Regions from separate parts of the Homo sapiens genome. Here region 2 is linked to region 1. A link means that fine-mapping ties the variant in region 1 to the expression of a gene that starts in the linked region. Tissue or cell type: whole blood. Region 1 holds a variant in brackets; the other region holds the start of a gene. All regions are shown on one strand. Distances are from middle to middle.

Evidence for each region. PIP is the estimated chance that this variant, and not a neighbour inherited with it, causes the effect.
Region 2: it holds the start of KLF7, and the variant in region 1 is fine-mapped to the expression of KLF7 in whole blood (INTERVAL, PIP above 0.99).

What each region holds. Positions count from the first base shown.
Region 1 is chr2:207,072,569-207,080,674 of GRCh38, forward strand. KLF7 (KLF transcription factor 7) reads right to left here. Exons shown (of 4, transcript NM_003709.4): 4 at 1,569-8,106. Among named protein-coding and RNA genes, the nearest start is that of MIR2355, 33 kb to the right of the region's middle. The variant T/A (reference allele first, on the strand shown) is at 4,545.
Region 2 is chr2:207,162,365-207,170,470 of GRCh38, forward strand. KLF7 (KLF transcription factor 7) reads right to left here and starts at 3,584. Exons shown (of 4, transcript NM_003709.4): 1 at 3,103-3,584. The coding sequence starts at 3,204. It overlaps MIR7845 (microRNA 7845), which reads left to right and starts at 4,036; the gene lies at 4,036-4,134. RefSeq lists enhancers at 1,177-1,885, 1,886-2,594, 3,196-3,295, 3,303-4,011, 4,012-4,719 and 1 more and silencers at 3,786-4,425, 5,046-5,095.

The DNA.
Region 1 (8,106 bases):
AATATTTGTCTTTCTGTGCCCCCAGTTTTACCATTTGTGAGAGCAAATGGTCATGGTGATGAATAATACCTATTCAGTGTATGCAGTCTTATTGGACTACTCAAATGCAGTGTACGTAAAATGAAAAATTTCAGAAACATAAGTAAATGTTTATAAAACAAACATAAATTTTGTTCTTCCACCCTCCTGTAACTTTGTCATCACTTCCTCATTTTTAAATATAGTGTTGTTGTATGTATAGCTATATCATGATCAGGCAAAAAAGTTAATAGGTTAAGTTCAAGCCAGTAACTGTTGATAGTTTTTAAACTCTCAGATAAAATATTTAATGTTGGAGAAGGAATTAGGAATTGGCTCATGGATAAAACAGAAAACCATCACCTGCCAGTGACCTCAAAATCTTATTTTAGCTAAAAGTTTTAACCATCTCCTCTTCTAAACCTGTAAGTGGAAAATGAGCTACAAATAATAAATTATTTATCAATTCCACTGAACTCTGCTTTTTATGAGACTTCTTTCCATTACCCCAGCATTCCCAACTCCATATACAACCACAGATTATAGCTGGTACGCACCTTCTTCCCCCTAGGACATGCAGGTTACACTTTCAGACTACTGCCTGTTGGATTCAAATTATAGTTGTTTTTGCACTTAAGAATTCTTGTTACCAAGCTTGCCTAGTTGATCGTCTAGTTGACTAGGAGATAAATATTTCTAGAAGATGACACACAAAGAACTTGCAACTTCTAAATAGGGAGAACACAGAAGAGAAAGTAGAATCACCCAATATAAAGTATAGAGTCATTTTGTGCCAGGGCAAGCAACCCGGCAGTCTGGAGTCATCCCTGAATTTATATTATATTGTAAAAATGGATGCTCAAAAAGGTTGTAAAGTGGGCAATATATATATTTAGACCAGTCTTAAGCAAAAATTTCATTTCTAAATATGTAAGCTTAAGTCTTTTAGCATATTCACTTATGTAAACCATCTCATTTCCTTATGGCAGATAGATTAGACTTACCACCCTCTTGTCTGAACATTTCAGTACAGTGCAATTTGTCCTTCACCTAAAATGTTCAATGTGATATCTTTTTGTAAGTCAGGGAGTGGAATAATGAGCCTTCTTCTAGGTAATATTGCCAAGCTATCTTATCCTTCCTCACTCAGAGAAATTTCCAGGTAAATGATTTTGGTTATCAGAATGAAATTACTCATCTAGTCCCAGAGCTACTGAAGACACAGGGAGTAGGAGGCAGGTCTTCAGACTCCAGGGGCTGTGTTTTCCCCACTACACATGTGGTTTCTTCTCAGTCAGCTTTGAGCTGCCGTGTTGCCCAGCTCACTTGCCTGTTCGGGAGATGTGGCAGCTGATGCTTAACACTTCAAAACCATTTTCCCGGCCCCTGCAGCACCTACTGTTCTCTTCACCTTGAGTTTTATGAGAGCAAGAACTTGATCACTCAGCTTCCCTTCCAAACCCGCTGTTACACTCCTGACACCTGTTTCCTGTTCAGGGACATGAGAAATGTCTGTGTCCATGCAGCAAATTCAGTCACACTAGCCACGGTTTCTAAAGTAAACATTTATTGGAAAGTTTCTTGTCAGATTCATTTGATTAGGGATAGAGGTTATTCACCACCGTATCCACTTCTGTAAGTCCAAAGAATGCAAAGAAAGCTTGACTACTGCTGTGTCCCATGTGACAAATGTGTTTTACTGCTGTTTCCTGTGAATGACACCACTTCTCTCGGGGAATCGCTGAGCTCGGGATGCTGAGGCGACACCACCAGCTGGGTTCTCTACCTTCCTCCTTACTGGTGATGCTCTTTCCTGGAAGTCGTGTGTGGCAGAGATTTTAGTACTTTTCTTTTCAGTTCTGAGAATTTTCCCTGGGGCTTTCATCTCCCTCTCTTCTCTGGGTCTGAAGCTGCTTGTATTTCCATCTAGTTTTTTGTACTCTCCACAGCCAGCTGGATTTCCTGGCTTCCGGTTACCCATTTCCTCCCCACTCCAACCACCTCCTGTCATTTTACTGCCCCCTACCCCTCACCTAAATTATTCCCTCTGATCTTTACCCTTCCTCCTTCACAGACTGCTTCAAAGATCCTTTCCCAATAGGTTCCTATTAAACACCATCCCAGAACAAACTGCCTCCTTCTCTCGCCAAATAAACCGCTTTCAATAAGCCTCTCCCAACCCCCTAAACAAATAACATCTTGTAATCTCTATCATTCTAAAATATTGCTTTTCATAATCTCCAACAATTGGCTCCCTTTTTCCCCTTGAAGAAATAAACTCAGTGACCCTTATTTGGGCATTGAGCTGCCTCAATGAAACTATAAAATACACACATACGCACACACACACACAACTTCCCAAACGAAGATAACCTAATACAACCTTTTGCTTTCCCTTTCTCCAAGAAAGAAAACTTTCACGAAGTATGTAAGTACCCACTTGCGTCTTTCGAAGATTTTTTTCCCCAGTGAAACAAGCTAAGGAGAAATACAGTAAAGTATTCCAAGGCCAAACACATTCTACTGTTTATTACACATATTACATTCTTAAATAAAAATGCGTCACATAACATTTTTTGCATAGATATCTTACAATATACCAATTTAAAAAAGAATTATGAAACAGACCAGTAACAAAAATAAATTTTTTCTTCATTAATAATTTTGTAACATTAACATACCACCATCATATAATACAAATAATAGTTTTAAATCTTAAGACTTTTGTACAGCAAAAAAACTTGACAAAGTAATATATTTATATATATATATATATAAAAAGCTTAAAAAAAATAAAATGTCAAAAAAAGGCATAACCGAGGGCTATAAGACTGGGTACTTCTGTGATATATTATAAATACCAGAGAAGGCCTGAGAGAATGTGACGGGGGGAGGCGGGGAAGGAGACGGGGCTGGGAGTAGGTCTCTCCAAACACACTTGTTAGACACATCTGGCAAAAAGAAAATGTATAGTGCAAAAATAAATTTATTCAAGCAACTGTTAAGAGGATAATAGAGATTTGAAAGAAAAGTTTCAGTGGCTGGGAAGTTGTGTGGGAGTAGGAAGTGGGAGAAGGAGCTTGACGCGGGGGCGGGTGGGGGCTTGTGGAAAGGAAGGGGAGGCTTCAAAAACATTAGACATTTATTTTTGCCTCTGTGTTAGCAAGGAGATCTTGGCCATTAACAGGTGTATTTTTCCTCCCTGGAATGAAGCAGAAGTGAAAGATAAGGAAATTAAACTAAGTCTGGGTTTAGATAGGAAATGCATGCTGGGAAGAAAAAACAAAAAGGTTGAGAACCAGCCAATAAGCCCCAAAGCCTTCAGGACCTAGGTTTGCAGAAATCGTTCTGCCTCCAGTCCAAAGGCCTAGGTTTAAAATGTCCCCTCTGCCCACCCCCAACCCCTCCCCGCTATGTGGAACTCCCAGTGTGGTTTCGATATACTGGCAATTATAAGCATCCATCCCCCCCAAAAGATATTAGGCACTGGTGGCTACTCCTCCGAAACGTCAGTAGCCTGTTTTCCTTCCGTGAAGGTACGACAGGTACATATGCGCATGTCTAGGTGCGAGCATATATACCACCCTCATTATGCTGACGTGGGGTCCATCTTATGGCAGTAGACAGAAGCTGGACTCACAGCAAGTTACGATTCCAAAGCTCACAGTTGAAAAAAAATTGTATAAACAGTCCCCAACAAAGAACATTATCAACCTTCCCTCATGACCACTGAGAGGGAGCCCTGTTTGAAAAGAATATCTTGTTTGGGATATTTGTGAAGTGATGGCCCAGGATTTCTCTCTCTGTTTTTGACACCTGTTTCCCGAGGACTTTTATGTTAAATGCAAAACACCTGAAAAATACAGTACTCTATTGGAAGGATGCACATAAGAAAGTTAACTGCAGCTTTATTTTTCCCTTTTCTGGGATCTATTAGGAACCAACAGAGGAGATTTAAGAGTGTTAAAAGCAAGAAAAAACCCTGAAGCCTCAGGCAGTTCGTCGTGGGAGGTCACGTTATTTACAAGAAGTTTCTGCTTCCTTTCACACATTTCTGTTGTTCCATCTCAAGTATTCCCAAAGATCCTCACTGAGGAAAGTAGGCCATCAAAGAGACATTGATGTATACTCAGGATAGGCCCTCTAGTTTTCAAACTGAGATATCACCATGTTCACCGAAATTTAATCCAGACACCCTGAATTTGAGTCCTCCCCTCCTGCCCCCCAACTCTTGCGCTTGGCAGGTGGCCACTTCCCGAAAATGCAAAGGAAAGCTTCCAGGAGTAAATTTCAATCAGGTTCTATTTACTGAATGTTCATTTTGGCAATGTTCTGGGTGCAAAATTGTAGCCAGAAATGCTGGCCCTCTTAAGATTTCAAAAAAATTCTAATAAACTAAAAAATGAACCTGATTTTTGTAGTTAAATGTGTTGCATCTTTATCTTACTTTGCCTACCTTCTTCCTGCTCCTAAAAGCAACTCATGCAAAAGAGAAGACAGAAGCACTTCCCACTTTTTACTTAACA[T/A]TTTATGAAGTGACTTCCATAAAGGAAACCATTTTGAACCATCAAAACGAGTCACTGGGTTTTGTTCTTGCAACTTGAGTTTCTTTTGGCTTTGCCATAAAATGCAGGAATAAAGGCAAGAGGCAATGTTCCGAATGCACTGGAAGAGCCATCCAAAAGCCCCATTTCTTTCCCCTTTGATGCAAATAGACATGGATAATCTGGAAAGCTTATCCCAAACAAAAGTCCTTATAAAATCTTCTCTGAAGCCAGAGAAGATTTTTTAAAACTAGGATTCAGTTCTGCTAATCAGGCATGAGGTTGGCTGTCCTTTTACCCTGTTATCATCAGGCAATCAAAGATGTACAAAGGGCACAAGAGGTGCAGGTGGAGAGGAGATGGCGTCGAGAGAAGAGGATATTTGAAGGGCTTTGCAAGGGAAAGCACACAGAGAGGAGGAAATGGTCAGCATGAAGTTCATTTTGGGGTCTCCAATATTTTTACAAAAATGCAGCTTTGTCATGGAATCTGAACATCTCTTTTTCTGGACATAATACTCATTACCACCAGGCATTGAGCTGAGCCATTAACCATGGGTGGGGCAGGAGGCCAGTAGCTAGGAGCAGCATTATAATTTCAGGTTTCCATGTCTATGACTTACAGTCATGTGGCAGGAGAAAGAAGTATAATTTGAAATTACAAAAAAAAAAAATTGTCAGTGGCTTAGAAACTCTTTTTCTACATGAACAAATCTGAACCCTGGATAAAAGCGTGCTTGTTAGGACACCACCAGAAACACCAGGCCGGGTTTTTCCTTTCAAATTTGGGATCCCCTGGAGGGTTAGGAGGTAACAACTGAAATGAGAAAGGGGTTTAATGTGTTTCAAATGTCCATTAATGCACTGTTTTAAATAACCAGTCCTCTTGGGAGCAAAATGTCTTCAGGTTACTTCTTGGAAAACCTGCTCGCTCTAGCGGCTCTTAGTAACCATCTCTGCCACTGCAGAGGTGATGGACGTTTTATTACAAATCCATTTCCAAAATGATCAGGACTGGTCATCATTCACAGGTGTCAACTCGGCTAAAGAAGAACAGTTTCAAAGCCATCCACTTAGCACCCACCAAATTCTTAGGCCAATTCTCACAGTCAACAAATGACTCTGAAGCAAGCAAGCACCACCATTGAGTTTCAATGCACCCTGCTCCAAGAAAGGTCAGGAGCAGATTACAAAGGACCTCACTGATACAAAAGAGAGAGAAATTACTGAACATTTCAGACACTGATGAGGACCAAAGGGCCTTTGTTCTGCCACATTCAAATGAGACCACAGATGAAAATAGGGAGCAAACAAGCAATGATTACTCTTTTGCATTTTTTAAACTTTCTTTTTAATAGAGCCTTGCATTGGTCAGTTCGAAAATTAAATTAAGTATTATAAACCCTTAATAATAGCATTCGAGAGGCAAGAGCAGCTCCAGCTTGGGAGAGAACATTTGCAAATCGTGGTGGCCATGGCTTAATGCCATCACTGGCGTGTGCGTGCATTCATGCTGGAGGCTGCTACATAAAGGAAAAGAAAGGAACCAACAGAATTCAGGGTGTCTAAAAGTTTCATCTAGTGCACTGACTGGAGGCGCTACAGTTTAATACAGCTGAGGTTCAAGGTCCCTCACACATCCTTCATCCAGGAAGGATGCACCACACATTCAAATATAATCCCATGGTACGCCCTGATGGACTGGCCACAAAATGCACTCAAATGCAGCAGAGAACTACGAGATTGTCAGCAAGCAGTGCTCCAGAAATTGTTTTTAAGTCATGTCTAGTTTTAAATCTTTGGAATAAAACTGATTTTTAATACCCTCCAACTAACATACATACAATTGCCTCCGGCAAATGGACAGATTTTGTGTGTGTGTGCGCGTGTGTGTTAACGGGTGTTCTTTCTTTTTTTTTCGTTTTGTATTATTTTGTTTTTTTTTTTGTTTTTGTTTTTGTTTTTTTTGGTCTAAATAGAAAAAAGGAAAAGGAGAAAGTAAATTCTTAGGGCCAGACCTCGAAATGCCCCAAGTGTCCAATTGGCAGCTATAGCATTTGTGAGGAGGTTCCTTTGCCCTCAGACGAGTAGTTTCAACATTTCAGTGAAAACAAAGGTTGCAGAAAGCTGAAAACCCAGATCTTGAAGGTTGCTGTCATATATGTGTTTGTGTTTCTTATATTATTTCCTTTTGACTTCAGTTTTGCATCCCAAATATGTATGGGGTGGCATTTTAACAGTCAATGAGTCAAACAGTCAAAGGAGGACAGGAGGGGAGCCAGCTGGTAGGAGGGAGCAGCAACCGTGTGTGGACCAAGCGCCATTTTTGTTTTATAGACGTGTCTTGAAGGGATGGTCCCAGAATATACAAAATATACAATCTGTCCTAATAACCACCCCGCTTGCTTGCATAGGCCATTTGATGGTCCTAAAGGCAGTCTTTGGAGTTGAGGCCAGTGCCAGCTAGCTAGGAATGCGGGTAGATAGAGACCACTACTGGATGTGTGAGTGTGGCATGACAAGTAAGGACTGTAGACTCCTTTGGAGTCAGCTTGCAGAGTAAATGTGAGGCCTCTGTTAATCCTGGGGGTTCTAGGTCACAAGTCATGGTGGGCCTAGCCAAAAAAAAAAGGAAAGAAAGAAACGTGTCTCTCCTTTTAGACAGCCCATGAGAGAAACACCTCAACCTTTTCCTTAAATGTCAACCCTTCACTCCCACAATGGCGTTTTAAATTGTGTATTGTAACACGTAGGGGAATAGGAGCTCAGTGGGCATGACAGAGAAGACAGGATGATCTTTTGTGAAGCCACTAGACTTGGGAGGCATCCTCAGTTTTCCCCACTCCTGGAAAGAGTGATATTTTTGGCTTTTTGTCAGGTCATAAACCAGAGTTAAATTAAATACGCAGCTGCCCTCTGAGACTAGCGACATCTATGCTGTAACTGGTTATGGGGTAGCAATGACACACAGCACAACGGTTGATCACTATGAGCTGAGGTCATCATGCCTCAAGGAGGATGAGAGAACTGTGATGTCCCATCTGACTGGCTGCTTCGAGAGCTGGACATCCAGGTGCCGAGAGAGTCCTGGAGAGGTTTAGTCCATGGAGAAAAGATAAAACATTTAAGCTTCCAAATAAGCTTTTCAAGTTTTCGTTAGCAAAAACGGAGAGATTAAAAAGAAAAAATCTAGCACTGGCAATAAGGTGAGGCTCAAGGGATATACTGTGATTTATCATCAAGGACTTTATTCTCTTGGCCACTTTGCAGTCATGCTAGAAGTTTCCAGAATCCCTAGTGCATATGGTGTGCAAAAGTCAAAACGTAAGAAAAGAAAACTCCTCCCTTGAGAGTGAAGTCTACAGAAATGCAGGCCAGAAAGGTGTAAGGTGTTATTCCAGTCTGCCGCCGCTAAGGCCGTTGGGATCGACGCGAAAGATCTCAATAGTACTAAGAACCAAAACCAGTCAACAGTTCTGTGAGGAAGTCTGACGCACGGAATAGTAGGACTTTTCACACACAAAGGACAAATAAACCAAGAGTTA
Region 2 (8,106 bases), 90 kb after region 1:
CGCGTCAGCTGAATTCTATAAAATAATAGACCACATAAGCACAGTGTAATTTACAGTTATATGACAGGCAGAAAGATGATGTTACTTGGGCCGAGTGCTTAAGTATGCAGTCAGAGCCCAGGAATGGAGAGCTGTTAATGTGTGATGTCCATTTGGATTTCAGAATTATACCAGCAACGATTATTTTCAGACTTGGAGCTATGTGGCTAAGGCATCATTGCCAGAAAATCCAATGTCAAAACGAGGATCTCCGTGACGAGAGGGAGCCCTGCCACAGTCAGTGACTTTGTCACAGGCTCACTGACTATTAAGCAGGACAATTATCCCATATCCTAAGTTTAAAATAAAATCCCCAAATTGTTTATCTTCAATTTTCAAACGTAAAAATGTTCTTGAGTTTATCATCGAAGCCACTCTTTCTCTAGAAACCAAGTCAGATTATCAGAGTCTCCACATTTTGCTCATCTCCATGAGCCCAGGTACATTGTTCACTTTAAGAAGAACATCTAATAATTACTCCTCATTTGACCTCTAAAATCTGATTACCCCAGAGCATAAAGAAACTTCTTCCTGTCTGGGGTTCTTTGCAGAAACCCTGTTGAGCTGTTTTGAGCAAAAGAGTCTCAAAATTTCATTATCCGATAGTTGATTTGGAACTAACAGTTGCATATCACCATCACCACCCCTTATACTCAGAAGCAGCAAGACGGTTTTGGGAGGGGGAAGAAGGAAGGGCTAGAGGTTAAAGGTTTTGTCATCAGTGTAAACCTATGGTCCTAGTCGCCTTTATATAGAGCAGTTGTGATTACGGAGTCCAGAACATAAAGCTCACTGGAGTGATATATTGTTTATTAGTGCTTCCCCACAAGCTATGCATCAGCATTGGCTATAAGCATGACGCTGAATAAGTTGGCTAAGGGTTTTAAGGTGAGAGTGGCTGGCAGTTGGAGAGGGTTAAGGCAAAAAATGAGGGGGTTCCGAGGGGTGAAAAATCCTTTGCCTGTAGAAACTAAACTAGAGCTTCCCTGAATGGGGAGGAGGCAGAGGAGCAGGGGGAGGAGGGGAGAAGGAAGAGCAGAGATGGCTTCTTAGGAAACAATAGATCTAATACATCCTCTAGTTGTCAAACCGATGATGTTTCTTTGCAGATCTAGAGTTTGTCCTGGATGGTCTAGCCAGATCTAGAAAAGCAGGTTTCCTGTGAAGAGACCTTCCTCCAAATCTGGCTTTACTACTCTGAAAACTTGAACCAAAACAAAGTTGCATGATTCATCAGTAGGGAACGTTCTAACAAATAAAGCCAACTTTCTTCCTTCTAACACTGCTTAACAGTTAGTCACAAACAAGGGCTGCCTTGGGCAGGCTGACTAAATCAACAGATTCCCTTCTCTAACCTGTCTAGACAGTTGTTAATATGCAACCGATTCCATACCAGTGGGCTGACAGTGTGAAATGAAGGCTATTTCAGAAGATTTTGGTTTAATTAGCATTGGAAATAAAAGGAAGAAAAAGATCCAGTGAGACCCTTCATGAGACACACTCTCGTTAAGGATAAGGAAAAGGATGCATTGAAGAAAGACTTTATTCTAAAAATATGTGAACTGTGTATGTGTTTACAGAGAGACAGAGTCAAGCATCTGCTAGCGTCCTTGGACAAGAATGCATGTGTGGACACAGAGACACCAGACGCCAATACCTGGAGGAAAACTCACAGCCTCTGACCAGAAGTGAACTAGCAACAATGGTACAGTTAAAGGATCCGCCTTGCCACTCGGCTCCTTATACCAAAAGCCAAACCTCTTTTGCTAAAGCAGAGACTGTTACATCTCAGCCTCAAGCTGGCAAATCCTGCTTTGGATCCCGGCAGAGGAAATTCAGCCGTTCATTAGCCTTAACAAGCTGCTGTCACTAAGCGAAGAAATTACACGAGCAGCCACACACCGAGCCTCTCACAGCCCTCCCCCCAAGGGCAAGCGGGTTTCTCCAGGACGGACTGTACAAGTTCACACTTCCTATGTGCAAATCCGGACTGTCTTCTTGGACTTTCCATGGTGCACACTGTACAATTTTTAAATACCCGTGTCCCCCCGCCCCCACCCACCATCTTTCCTGCAGAATGTCCCCTCAGCAGCTCCTAATCGCTGCTGAAAAAAACCACTGTTTCCGCAGCAGAGCCAGCACTTTCCACTGACCAGCACTTTCTTTATTCCACTTCACAAAGCCCAGTGAACTTGTCACCAGCCCCACTTCATCCTCCCTGGGACGGCTAGCCAACTTGGCATCGGTGCCCTTCAGCATCCTGGGAGTTTCTTAACTAGTCCTCTAAGACAAAGTCAAAGGCATGGAAGCACACATCAGCCTTTGTCCGAGGTTGTGCTGCCTAACTAGAGAAGGACCCTAAACAAAAAAGAGAAACAAGGACACGCATAGAGGGTGTTCTCTTTCTGGAGGGATCACACTGGGAAAACCTACAATTCATTGTCAGCCTCAGCTACATCTTCCCGTCCTCCTTGAGTATCTTTTGTCAGTGGGCTCTTCTCTCTTTTGCCTACCTTCTAATCTCAAAATCAAGCTCCTATTCTTTATTGACACTCGCTAATTACTGAAAAACACTCCGCTTTGCTCCTGCCCACCCTCCCCCGCCCCCCATCCGATGGTCATAAGCACCAGTTGAAACAGATGAACCTGATTTCAGGTATCAAGTGGGTAGAGCTCATGCATGCGAGAACGTGGTCCCTGTCAGCAATCGCTCCTAACACCCCAAACCACCTTCCCACCCGGCTCCTCCGAACCCCAGAAGTTCGGCAGGTCTCTGATAGGGGACAGCAAACCCGACAACGTGTGCGCAGGGATGTGTGTTGGCGACTGAAACGCAGGCAGCTCGCACCGGCTGCTCAGCTCGGCACTCTACGAGGTTAGGGGTGGGTGGAGAGGTAAGCGCAGATGACTGTTTCAGAAAACATTTTCAACAACAGACAGCCAAAAAGGAAGAAAAAAAAGTCAAACAAACAAACAAAAATTTCAACCCAGAGCCCACACCAACGCAGCCCCTGCGTCTCCGCCGCCACCACACGATTTACACAAGTAATTTAAATCATTCACCTGCTGCCAGGTCTCCTCCAGGGATGGTAAAGCTGAGAAGTAGCCGGTGTCGTGGACAAGTTGTAGCTCCTGGAATATACTATAACTAGCCAACACGTCCATGCTGCTGCTGCCGGGCAAAACGGGAGGCGAAACCCTCCCCCGAACACAGTTGGGGCTGTTTGTTTGTCAGTCTGTCTGGCTCACCCCCCAAGAAGGCAGACATCCAGTGGCCCTTTTGTTTTGTTTTGTTTCAGTCAACTAAAAAGGAAAAAAAAAAATCAATGCAGGAGAGGGAGAGAGGAGGTGAGAGAGGAGCGAGTGAGTGGGGTGGATGGAGAGAGGCATCCAGCGTGTACAGTGCAGACGACTGCCAGGAAAAGGGGACTTCTCCACGGGAGTAACAATTCCCTTCCAGGGCTCTAATCACTCCAGCTCGTGGATCAGGAAGGGGGATGCAAACTCACTGACACGAAGCTGCCATCTATTTCTGCAGCGCTGTTCGCTCCTAATGCAATCTTTGCTCTTTATTTTGGGAGGTTGCATTTTTTTCTCTCGCGATCGCTTCTCTTCCCCCCCCTTCCCTTCCCTCCCCACCCCCCACCCCATCCTTGCTAGTTTGTAGTCTTCCCCCTCCCTTTTCTCCTCCTCCTGCTCTTCCCCCTCCCCAAACTCCCTCCCTCCGTTCGGTTCTCCGCGCAGCCGTGGGATCTCGAGGAGGGCGTCCATTAGGCCGCGTGTGACCATGTAAGGTAAACAGGGGGCTCATGAAGTCACTGAGGACCAATGGGGAGCCCGGAGCAGAGCCTGGGGCGGGGCTTGGCCCTGGCGGCGGGCGCGGATTGGCACGCTGCGGATCTCCCTGCTGCCTTACAAGGCGGTGCGAGGCGAGCTATTTTTAGAGGGCTATATAAGGGGGCTGAGGCGGCCGCCCGGCGGCCGGGCAGCGCGAGCGCAAGGGACAGGGAGGGTCGTGGCGACACTCGCGCCAGCTCCCGGGACGGCTGGGCTCGGGCTGGTCGCCGACCTCCGACCCTCCACTAGATGCCTGGCAGAGCCCGGCGCGTCCGGAGCCCGCGCCCCTCAGAGGGAAGGGGTCGCGCGTCGCCGCGGCGGCCCTGAGGCTGACGGTCGGGAGGTGAAAGGCCGGAGTGCGGGGTCAGGACGCCTCCTGGAGGGGGCGCGGCGCAGGGGGCCGCGGGGAAGCCGCCGAGGGCGCGGAGCGGGAAGGAAGGACAGTGGCCACCCCGCCTCCGCCTGGGCACGGGGCAGGGACCCGCGCGAGGCGGTGCCGGGGAGGTCCTCACGTACTCAAAAACAAGCAGAAAAGGCATCCAGGGCCCCTTCCCGAACTCCCCACGGGCTGCCAGGGTGCAGAGAAGAAGCGCCTGAGGAGGAAGTGCCACACAATGGGAGAGAACAAAGGGGAGCGGAGCGAGACCGCGGCCTGCGCCCGCCCCCCGCTTGCGCACAGTCCCCGCCCCGCCCCGCGGGCGCCGCCGCCGCCGCCCTCCCTCCCGCGCCTCCTTCTGACCCCGAGCGAGAGACCTGGTCGGGAGTCCGGCGGCTAGAGTTGATTGCAAGGGGCCTGTTGCTCGACTGTGCGTTAAAGAGGCTAGAGGGAGCCTAGGTAGACGTGGGGCGCAAGCTGGAGCCGGCAGCTTGCGAGGGGGCCTTTACGTGATGAGGCTCACCATGGGGTCTCCAGCGAGGTGTCTGCAGAGCTTCGATGGTGAGAGGAGGAACTCGATTTCTCGTTTTCTGGAGTTGGGATGTAGACATAGAGAGATCTGTTACATCTGAGATGAAAACCCTGCACAATTCACGTTAGGGTTGGCCAATTGTTTGCTTGACCTTAAATGGTTAGTGTGGTTTAAGCTTCCCCAAAATGCGCTGTGAGCTGAGCTTCCACTTTTGGAATGATTGCAGAATTCGGTGCTTAAGAGATGAGAAACTTCGTTCTACCAGTAATGGAAGAAACGCTTCACCTTAATCACCCTCCTTGTCTTTCCCCTCCCTTTGACTATGTAGGACTCGATAACACAACATTTGAAAGATTCTACTCTATGAAATAAGCACAGATTGAAATTCAGTATTTGCCAAGGAATATTAAACATGAATTACTGGGATTGAGGAAAGCCTGATTTATTTACTTGTTAGTGTCTGGAATTCTGTTGGCCAGATTCATAGCATTCATTGTATGAGTATAATTGGAACATTTACTCTAATGTAGATGCAGATGCATCTGCAATTAGATGTGCAAGGACGCTGCCAGCTAACTAGCTGCACGACTTTGAGCGAATTACTGGGTCAGAACTTGTATCTACCCATCTCAGAAACAGAAATAGTGGGATCCGCGTTGTCTAGTTGTTATGAAGAGTCAAAATATCTTTGGTAACTCACCTAGCATAGTATCTGACACTATTAGGTGAATACTAAATATTAGCTATCATTGTCTCCCCACTTGAGCTATGTAAACTAATAGGACCTTTAGGAGAATATACTATTAATAGAATCTTGGAGATAGAGGAAAGGTAGAAACCCCTTGCTAGTTTGTTACAAGGTCTCCCCTTCTCCATGCTCTCCCCTGACCCCCATGCTATTTCAACTGGGGGGATGGGCAGGAACCATTGAGAAACACTAGGGCAAAAAACATGTTCATGAATAATAGGGGAAGGAAAGGAACTTGGGTATAGAAAACTAGAGGCAAAAGGTGAGGCAAGACCAACCATATAATTTGGTACTTGAGACTCAAGTGAACTTATTTTGTGTGTGTTACATTATAACAATTTTTGAATAAAATAGGACATATCGGTTAACGTGAGTTTGAAGATTTTACAAATAATAGTTCCCATTTATTAAGCACTTCGAATGTGCCGTATGCGCATAAACACTTTATATGCAATGTCTCATTTAATCTTAAGGACAGCCCCAAAGTATCCCCAACTTTATGGATGAAGATACCCACGCTTGGAAATACTAAGTAAGTTGGTCAAGGTCTCACAACCTGGAAGTGGTCAAGCAGGGGTTCAAATCCAAGAGCATCTGACTCCCCACACTGTTCTGTACTGAGCTTTGTATGGTGAAAAATGGGGTTCCTCAGCTTTAAGTCAGTGTGTGTTTACAAAAATTGCTTGGGTGGGGCCGGAGGAGGAGGCTTCCATTGAGACTTTTCCTATGTAACTATCAGCCGTCTGACTTGCAAAAGGACTCAACCAAAATTTTACAAAGCAAATACTGCAAACCTCATTATGGTCTTTGCTCCAAGCTTTGTAGAATATTTTAGATTCATTTTAAGAGATTTATGCAGCAAGGCATTCTGAAAGGCACATTTTCAATATTAGTTATATTTAGCTACTTTTTATACCCTAGAGACCCAAGATTCACATTGCAAAACACATGCAAGGTATCCAGATGTACAAAGTAATCAACAAATTAAGATCACAAGAGAACTTTGGCAGTTCAGCAAACCAAAATAAACTGCACTGTTGTAACTACCACTTACTGGTTGATTACCTTCTTTGTACCTAGCATTTTACACATACCTCTGATCTCCACAATCCTGTGAGGGAACTCTTAGTGCTCCATTTTTATAGATGAAGATACTGAAGTTTAGAGAGTGCATGTAATTTGCTCATTACCATGTGTCCAGTAAGTGGGTAAAAGCAGATTAGAATACAGGTCTGCCTCCAAATCGACTCCAAAATCTGTCTTCTCCACAAGTATTGCCTTGGGAGGTGTTCATTTTACTTCTAATAATGTCAATCTTTGGAAGTAATCCTATAGAAAACACCCTAGAGTAAATAATAAATTATCCCCCCACCCGGGGGGAGCTTAGAAATAAATGAGGATATTTTAAGAATAAAATAGTAAAAATTTAATATGTGAATACACACATTAAAGGCATCAGGCTGTTTCCACCAGTAAAGTTTTGCTTCATTAGTGTAGGAAGTCTTTATTATCCCAGTGTGATTAGTACTCCTCAAAGTAAATCTACTTAAAGCTGGGACCAAATTTCAGACCAATCAGTGAAGAAAGCTTTGCTTAAGACTTTATTTGAAAATAAAACTAAATGTTATTAAAATACATTCATTCTGTCCTATATGGGCATACCTCATTTTATTGTACATAGCTTTATTATGCCTTGCAGATACTGCTTTTTTATACAAATCGAAGGTTTGTGGCAACCCTGCTTGGAACAAGTCTTATCAGCACAATTTTCCCAACAACATGTACCCACTTTATGTCTCTGTGTAACATTTTGGTAATCCTCACAATAGTTCAAACTTTTTTTGTTATTATATCTGATATGGTGATCTGTGATCAGTTATTTCGGTTTTACCATTGTAATTGTTTTAAGGCACCATGAACTGTGCCCAAATAAGACATAGAACTTAACTAGTGTGTGTGTGCGTGCTAATTACTCCACCGACTGGCTCTTCCCCTCCTCTCCTCAGGCCTCCCTATTCGTTAAGACACAACAATAATGAAATTAGGCCAGTTAATATCCCCACTATGGCCTCTAAGTGTGCAAGTGAAAGGAAGAGTGACATATCTCTTTAAATCAAAATCTAGACATAAGCTTAGTGAAGAAGGTATATCAAACACCGAGATAGACCAAAAGCTAGGCCTTTACACCAAACAGTTGGCCACTCTGTGAATGGAAAGAAAAAGTTATTGAAGGAAATTAAAAATGCTACTCCAATAAACACACAGATGATAAGAAAGCAAAACAGCTTTATTGCTGATATGGAGAACGTTTTAGTGGTGTGGATGGAAGATCAAACCAGCAACAACATTCTTTTAAGCTAAAACCTAATCCAGAGCAAAACCCTGACTCTCTTCAATATTACGAAGGATGAGAGAGGTGAGGAAGTTGCAGAAGAAAAGTTGGAAGATAGCAGAGGTCGATTTATGAGGTTTAAGGGAAAAAGTCATCTCCATGACATTAAAGTACAAGGGAAGGAGCAAGTAGTAATGTAGAAGATGCAGCAAATTATCCAAAAGACTGAGCTAAAATCATTG